Homo sapiens: one gene and its partner. The protein of the gene in region 1 interacts with the protein of each later gene in a biochemical or structural test. Each region holds a gene or a part of one and is shown on either strand. Other genes may lie near its edges.

Region 1 (3,749 bases):
GACTGAAATACAGTCCTTGTATTTTATTCTATTTTTCTTTTCTTGATTATTAGCTGACTTGTTTGGTGACAGGCTGTCAAGAACACGCAAATTTCATGGCCATATAAAAATGATCTCGTCAACGTCTTCCCTCGAATTGAAGCGGAGGATTTAGTTGTAGATTTGGTTTGGCACCTTCCACTTTAAGGAAGATGTAAAAACTAAGGCGCAGGTACTCCAGCTGCAGGGAGTGTTTTTTGTCCCCGCTCCCCTGTCCCCCATAAAGAAACAGGACCTCAGGTGGTGGGCGGGCGGGGAAGGAGAAGGGATGTTTCTAAGTCTACAGGGGAGAGTGTAGAAAGAAAGAAGGAAAAGGTAAGAGGACTCCACAGTTTCTAGGTTTTGTTCTTCTTTTTTTCCCTCTGGACAGCGGTGGCAGCTGATCAGACACAATAGCTGGCAGTCCCCGGCCGCAGTGAGGATAAAAATGACCCTCAACAGCACCAGCAGGAGCACCGAGAAGGGGAGGGGAGTGTGTATGGGAGGGGGCGAGGATGAGGGTGACAAGGTGACAAACGCTGCCTCTGACTGCGAGCAACTCCCCCTCCAGCCCCGCGAGGCTCGGAGCCGGGGAGCCACCTCCCCGGAGCGGGGCGGGGTGGGAAGGAGAGGCCGAGGGGGCGGTGGCCTTCACCCGGGGGCGGGGAAGAGGGCGGAGGGAAGCCTGATTTACCAGCCCCTGATTGGTTCGCGTTCTCTCGTCGCGTCTCCCGATTGGGTAATTTGCAGCGGGAGATGTTGTGAGGCACGGCGGGGCGGAGCGAGCTGCCGGGGTCTGTGACAAGGCCCGGGAATTGGGTGGGGAGGGTGGCGGTTGTGCCGCGGCTCCGGAGCCGCTGTGACCTGGAGTGTGGCGGACAGAGAAGCGCAGCCGCCTCTCCACAGTTCCGCTAGCCGCGCCAAATTCGCTCAGCCGCTCTGCAGAATTTATAAAAGGGAAAGAACTGAATGAGCAACGCTTGGCTAACTTCCCCCTTCCCACCACAGGAAGAGATTTTTGCTGTGAGGCGTGAGGGGACACTCCCTTATCTGGAAGTCCCACGTCTCGTCGCAGCTTCATTGCCTTCCCGCTGCAAAAAAGGGGTGGGGGCACAATTTGCCAAGCCCTGTCCCCCAATCTAGGACCTTTGATCCCTGGAGTCTGCAGATGTCGCTGTTATAGGCTTGTCCCCCTCTCCACCCCAGACGTCTACCACCAGGTCTCCTTTCCCGGGAGCAAGCCCATCCCTGGACGCTGCCGTTCAGCGCTTGGGAGACTGCAGGGGCGGGGAGCGTTGTGTGCCTGGTTTTGGGGTGCTGGGGGGCGAGGGCTTGTAGGTCCCGCGACCCACGGGGAGGGGGCAGGCGAGCACCCCGCTCCGGCCTCCGGCTAATCCCCCTTCTCCAGCGTCGGTTCCCCGGTCCCGTGTTATTCAAGACAGAAAATATTCAGCCCCAGAGCCTCCCCTGGGGAGGGGAGGGGAAGGAGGTGGAGTGGGAGGAGGTGGATCCAGGGAGGAAGAAGCGAGAAATCCGCCCCCGGGAAACAGCTCCGCGCGGCCACGGAGCGAGGCGCTTCTGTCACTTGGCGTTCGCGGGCGCCGGAGCTGGGCCCCGGCCCGGCCCGGCGAGGCGAGGGGAGAGTCCGGCGGCCGCCGCCCCGCCCCACGCCCTCCTGCGGCGGCCGAGAGCCCGGGGCCGGCCGGGGCAGGTCGCGGCGGTGCCTGGGAGCGGCCGGCCGGGGGCGGCGGCCTCGGAGCGCGGCGGCGGCGGCGGCGGCGGCGGCGGGCAGCGCGGGATCGTCCGGCTGCGGGGTCCGGCTCACGCCGGGCGGGCGGGCGGGGCGCGCTGTCCCGGAGCCGGCCAGCCCCGTGCGGATCCACTCGTCCCGCTTCCTCTGGTGCGTGTCTGGTTTCTTTTCCGTCTCAGCCGAGAGGGCGCTGCGCTCGCGGGCCGTGGAGTGCCCGGCTTGCCGCGGGCTCTCTCCCTTCCCGCCACAGGCCACCCGGCCGGGCGCTGGCTCGGGGCCGGAGGGAGCCCGCGGCGGGCGCCCGGCGGGGGCGGAGGGGCCGCGCCCGCGTGTGCGGAGCAAGGGCGGGCGGCGGGGCGGAGGGAAGGGCACAAAGGCCGGCGGTGGGCGCTGGGGTCCGGCCGGCCAGCCTTGGAGGAGGGGCGCCTGGGGCCGCTCATGAATATTAACCGAGCCTGCGGCCTAGCGCGTCCCGGCCGGGCCCGGCGCCCGGCCAGCGTCTCCGCTTCAGCTCGCCGCCGCGCTTCGGCCGCCGGGCCCGAGCGGGCGGGAAGGGTAAGGCCCCCGGTTTTGTCTCGCCCCGGGGCTCCTAGCACCTTTGAGAAAGTCCATATTGGGGCCGCTCTCCTCGGGAGCTCGAGGTCCCCGACCCGCCTCAGGAAGGGGCGGGGGAATCGTGGGGAGGTGGGTGGTGGTTTGCTTTTTCTCGTTTTTTCCCCCTAGGTGGCCACAGGGGAAGGGAAGCCGTGTCGAGTGGTAGTTGGGGGAAAAGCCGCGACTTCAGAGTTGCTCGGGTGTAGCTCCAGAATCATGCCCTGGAGCGGGAGCGGCGCCGGCGTCCCACCCGCGGCCGCGCACGCCTCCCCGGCCGTCCCCACCCAGCCCCGCCGCGGGCCAAGGAAAACAGCCGCCTCCTCGGGGACGCCGGCCGGGGCGGAGGGGCGGAGGGGCGGCGCCCGAGTCACCCGGAGACGCCGCCGAGCCCACGCCGGCCCCAGCCAGGCTGGCTTTGTGCTTGCGTTTTTGGGGGGCGGAGGGGAGCGAAGAGGGGGCTTGGAAAGTGTGATCCCATTTCAGCCTCGTGGGGGAGAAAACTTCACCGAAGTGTCCCTGTCTGGGTGATGCAGAAAACAACATGCACAGCCCTCTGCTCTACCCAGGAAAGACATGAATTAAAATGCACTTGAATGGGGAACATTTTTTCTTGAAGGCTGCATAACAGCCAGGTGTGTTTGACGCAACCGCTGGGCAGTTTCGAGATTTCTCTTTTTTAAACACCCCCTCGAATTTATAGGCTTTTTGTTTGTTTACGTTAAAATTTTTTTTTGTTTGTTTTGCTCGGGAGGAAACGCGAACTTGGTGTGGACATGTGGGCAAGACAGTGATAGGCGCCTGGAGAAAGTTCATGACCTTTAACTTCTCGTTTTCCTAGGATCTCTCTAGGAGCTGACACTCGAACCTTCACGACCCATTCGGATTTTTCCAGGACTCAGGAGTGGCACTGGGAAGAAGGGGACCGCTTTCTGCAATTGGCCTCGACACTGGCTGCCAAGAAGACCTGTCGCCTTTGTTTTTAAGTCTCCAGAAATGGAAGAAGAAGGCGAAGTCAGTTGAAGTCACGAGAAATCAGCGAGGCATTTGAAGGCGCTTCCTGAAAACCTTTATTCCCTGGCACGTTGTCTGTTTCAACAGCCCTGCCCCTCCTCGGAGCCTGCTTGTGGAATTCTTCCCCTTCGGGTGTGTGGTGGCATTCCCCGCCACGTCCAATGTGGACTCCAAAGGATTTGTCCCTTCTTTGTCATTTGAAATGAAATGATGGCCACGCGTCGGACTGGTCTGTCTGAGGGAGATGGTGACAAGCTCAAGGCCTGCGAGGTAAGCGCGGAGCCAGCGTTCCTGGCCGGCAGGGCGGTGGCCTGTGTCTTGAGCGTCCTGCAAGTTGGGGGTTACCGGCCACGGGGCCTCACTAGGGGCTTCCCGG
Region 2 (3,649 bases), on another chromosome or scaffold:
CCCAGGCTAGAGTGCAATGGCGTGATGTTGGCTCACTGCAACCTCTACCTCCCGAGTTCAAGCCTCCTGAGTAGCTGGGACTATAGGCACACACAACCACGCCTGGCTAATTTTTGTATTTTTAGCAGAGATGGGGTTTTGCCATGTTGGCCAGGCTGGTCTTGAACTACTGACCTCAGGTGACCCACCTGCCTTGGCCTCCCAAAGTGCTGGGATTACAGAAGTGAGTCACTGAGCCAGGCCTGATAATTTTTGAAATCTGCAATGTTTGTTACGCATAAAAACTTGATTTCTTGAAAGAGAAATACATATTTCAGATCAGTTCACTTTCTTGCATAAACTACATTTCCAAAATCGTAAAAGACATCTGGGGCCGGGCGTGGTGGCTCATGCCTGTAATCCCAGCACTTCGGGAGGCCAAGAAGGACGATCACCAGGTCAAGAGATCGACACCATCCTGGTTCAACACGGTGAAACCCCGTCTCTACTAAAAATACAAAAATTAGCTAGATGTGGTGGTGCACACCTGTAGTCCCAGCTACAGGGGAGGCTGAGGCGGAGAATCGCTTAAATCCAAGAGGCAGAGGTTGCAGTAAGCTGAGATCACGCCACTGCACTCCAGCCTGGGCGATGGAGCGAGACTCCGTAACAACAACAACAAGATCTGTCATGATGACTAGTGTTACATAAACAAACATACTCATTACTAATTTATCAACAAAAATTATCCACATGGACCACATCAGAAACAAGCTACAAAACACTTAAGTGAGAACACTAAAATACACGTTTACAGTGTACTGATGGGAAGTAGGAATCATAGGTGATTTTCTTCCTATTATTTTCTATATTTTTCAATTTTTCTACAAAAAGCATGTCAAACTTAGGCTGGGTGCAGTGGCTCATGCCTGCAATCCCAGCACTTTGGGAGGCTGGGGCAGGAGGACTGCTTAAGCCCGAGATCAAGAATAGTCTTGGCAACATAGTGAAAGGTCCTCTCTACAAAAAATAAGAAAAAAATTAGCCATGCATGGTGATGTGGGACCTGCAGTCCCAGCTACTCGGTAGGCTGAGGTGGGAGGATCACTTGAGCCTGGGAGTTTGAGGCTACCATGCGCTATGCTGGAGCCACTGCACTCCAGTCAGAATGACAGAGCAAATCCCTGTGAAAAACAAAAAAGCTTGAAAGAGCTCAAATCGAGATGACTAAAAAAGAATGAAAAAAATTACCTGCAGCTATTTCTTGTTGTTTTTGTTTTTCAACCATTTCCTTTTCTCGCTGTTCTTGTAATTTCTTTGCCCTTTCCAACCTGCAAAATTAATTTCAATGAATTTAAAATAACACAATATAAAACCATTATGTATATATCTCTCTATATGTGCATGTACAGAGACAAGCCAACTTCCATAAAATTTTAAATTTTTAGCATCCCTCCACCGATAGCCGTATGTGAAGAAAAAGCAATCATTCTTAAGATGATATAAGCTACATTTGAAGAATACCACAACAGTGGTTTTAAACATTTTTGAATTGACTAGTCAGAAATGGGCATAGTTTTTATATGCAGTTCCAATTAACAAGTGAAAAAAATTACGTCTTGCAAGTAACATATTGAAAGCTGAGTAAATTTTAGAGCATGGTTAAGTAGTAAATAAATTTATAGAATTATCTAAATGTTTCTTGAGGGAGAAAAAGCCAGCCGATCAAGACATTCGGATAATTTTTTATATTGTACAGACCTTAGTAAAGTCTTCAATTTAATAAAAATCAAAAAGCCAAAACTAAAAGGTCAAGCAAACCTTGCCATTCTCTGTAATCTAATAAAATGGGAGGAAAACTTTTCTCAATTAGGAAATTACTTCTAGCAGTTGAACAAATTTATCATTTACAAAGGAACTAGTAACATGAAACACAAATTCATCCCAAAACAAAAATGAATTTTTTTTTGAGACAGTCTCACTCTGTTGCCCAGGCTGGAGTGCAATGGCACGACCTTGGCTCACTGCAACCTCCGCCTCCTGGGTTCAAGCGATTCTCCTGCCTCAGCCTCCTGTGTAGCCGGGATTACAGGTACACACCACCATGCCCAGCTAATGTTTGTATTTTTAGTAGAGATGGGGTTTCACCAATGTTGGTCAGCCTGGTCTCAAACTCCTGACCTTCTGATCCGCCCGCCTTGGCCTCCCGAAGTGCTGGCATTACAGGCGTGAGCCACCATGCCCAGCCCAAAAATGAATGCTTGTTCTCTCTACTCACTCTGTTGAATGAGTAGTGTGCATACATTAAATTCACTAATGAGTATGCACACTAAACAAGCTATATGTTAAGTTTACCCTTTCTATATAGCAAATAACAAGTAACATTATCTTCACAATGAATTCCTGAAAGAGGAACTCTTTTCTTCCTAAGGATTCCCTGATTTATCAATCAAGCCAAATGCCACTAACGCCCTCTGTAATGTGGTATAAAGGGGACAGGACTGACAAAACTTGTTTTTGTTTTGGGGCACTATGGGTAATACAATGCAGGGGTAGTAAATTGGATTTGCTTTAAGAATTGTTAAGTCGGCCCGGCGCCACGCCTCTCGCCTGTAATTCCAACACTATGGGAGGCTGAGGTGGGTGGATCACCTGAGGTCAGGAGTTAGAGTCCAGCTTGGTTATTAACATGGTGAAATCCCGCATCTACTAAAAATACAAAAAATTAGCAGGGCGTGGTGGTGGGCGCCTGTAATCTCAGCTACTTGGGGTGCTGAGGCAGGAGAATCGCTTGAACCCAGGAGGCAGGGGTTGCAGTAAGCTGAGATCACACCACTGCACTCCAGCCTAGGCAACAAGACTTCATCTCAAAAAAAAAAAAAGAGGAAAAGGAAAAAAAAAAATTGTTGAAATTTACATAAAAGAAATATAACAAGCTATAATTTTATTCCCTTTTATGAAGCACATATGCATGGAAGGCATAACATAGACTTGACTTTGTCCTTGAGAATAAAAGTTTGTAAATTAGCAGTAACAATAAAATGTAGGTCGCAGGCTTGGCAAGGTGGCTCATGCCTGTAATCCTAGCACTTTGGGAGGCCAAGGTGGGAAGACTGCTTGAGGCCAGCAGTTCGAGACCAGCTTGGCCAACATGGCAAAACCCGTCTCTATTAAAAAGAAAACAAAAATTAGCTGGGTGTGGTGATGCGCATCAGTAATCCCAGCTTCTTGGGAGGCTGAGGCACGAGAATTGCCTGAACCCAGAAGGCAGAGGTTGCAGTGAGCCAAGATCATGCTCCTGCACTCCAGCCTGGGCAACAGAGCAAGACTCCGTCTCAAAAATAAATAAATAAATAAATAAATAAATAAATAAATAAATAAATAAATAAAATAAAATAAAAATAAAAAATAAAAAAAGTAGGTCACAGATCTGAAATGTATTTCCTAAACAGTTTTAAATCCTGACCTTTAAGCCAAAAAAGAAACCAATATAAAAGGTCTATACATGGTAGTTTCTTAAGAAAAAAATTCTCCAGATTTCAAGGTAGTAAATAATCTCATATTCTGAAATTAAAGAACTACATTTAAAACTTTATCTGAAAGATCACCAAGTAATCTATATATCAATGACATTTTGGATGCTATTAACGGCTTCACTTTTAAAAAAATC

What was found. The genes of interacting proteins can lie anywhere in the genome.
Region 2: the proteins of ARHGAP21 (region 1) and RSRC2 interact in a test that uses a peptide from one of them, tested with the Homo sapiens proteins (one large-scale study listed by IntAct).

Annotation. Positions count from the first base shown.
Region 1 is NC_000010.11:24,721,731-24,725,479, reverse strand, and holds the start of ARHGAP21 (rho GTPase-activating protein 21), read left to right. Parts: upstream 1-1,592; 5' UTR 1,593-1,918; intron 1,919-2,258; exon of another isoform or gene 2,259-2,323; intron 2,324-2,731; exon of another isoform or gene 2,732-2,994; intron 2,995-3,200; 5' UTR 3,201-3,580; coding exon 3,581-3,643; intron 3,644-3,749. UniProt on the Homo sapiens protein: Functions as a GTPase-activating protein (GAP) for RHOA and CDC42. Downstream partner of ARF1 which may control Golgi apparatus structure and function. Also required for CTNNA1 recruitment to adherens junctions.
Region 2 is NC_000012.12:122,509,879-122,513,527, forward strand, and holds part of RSRC2 (arginine/serine-rich coiled-coil protein 2), read right to left. Parts: intron 1,311-3,649; coding exon 1,231-1,310; intron 1-1,230.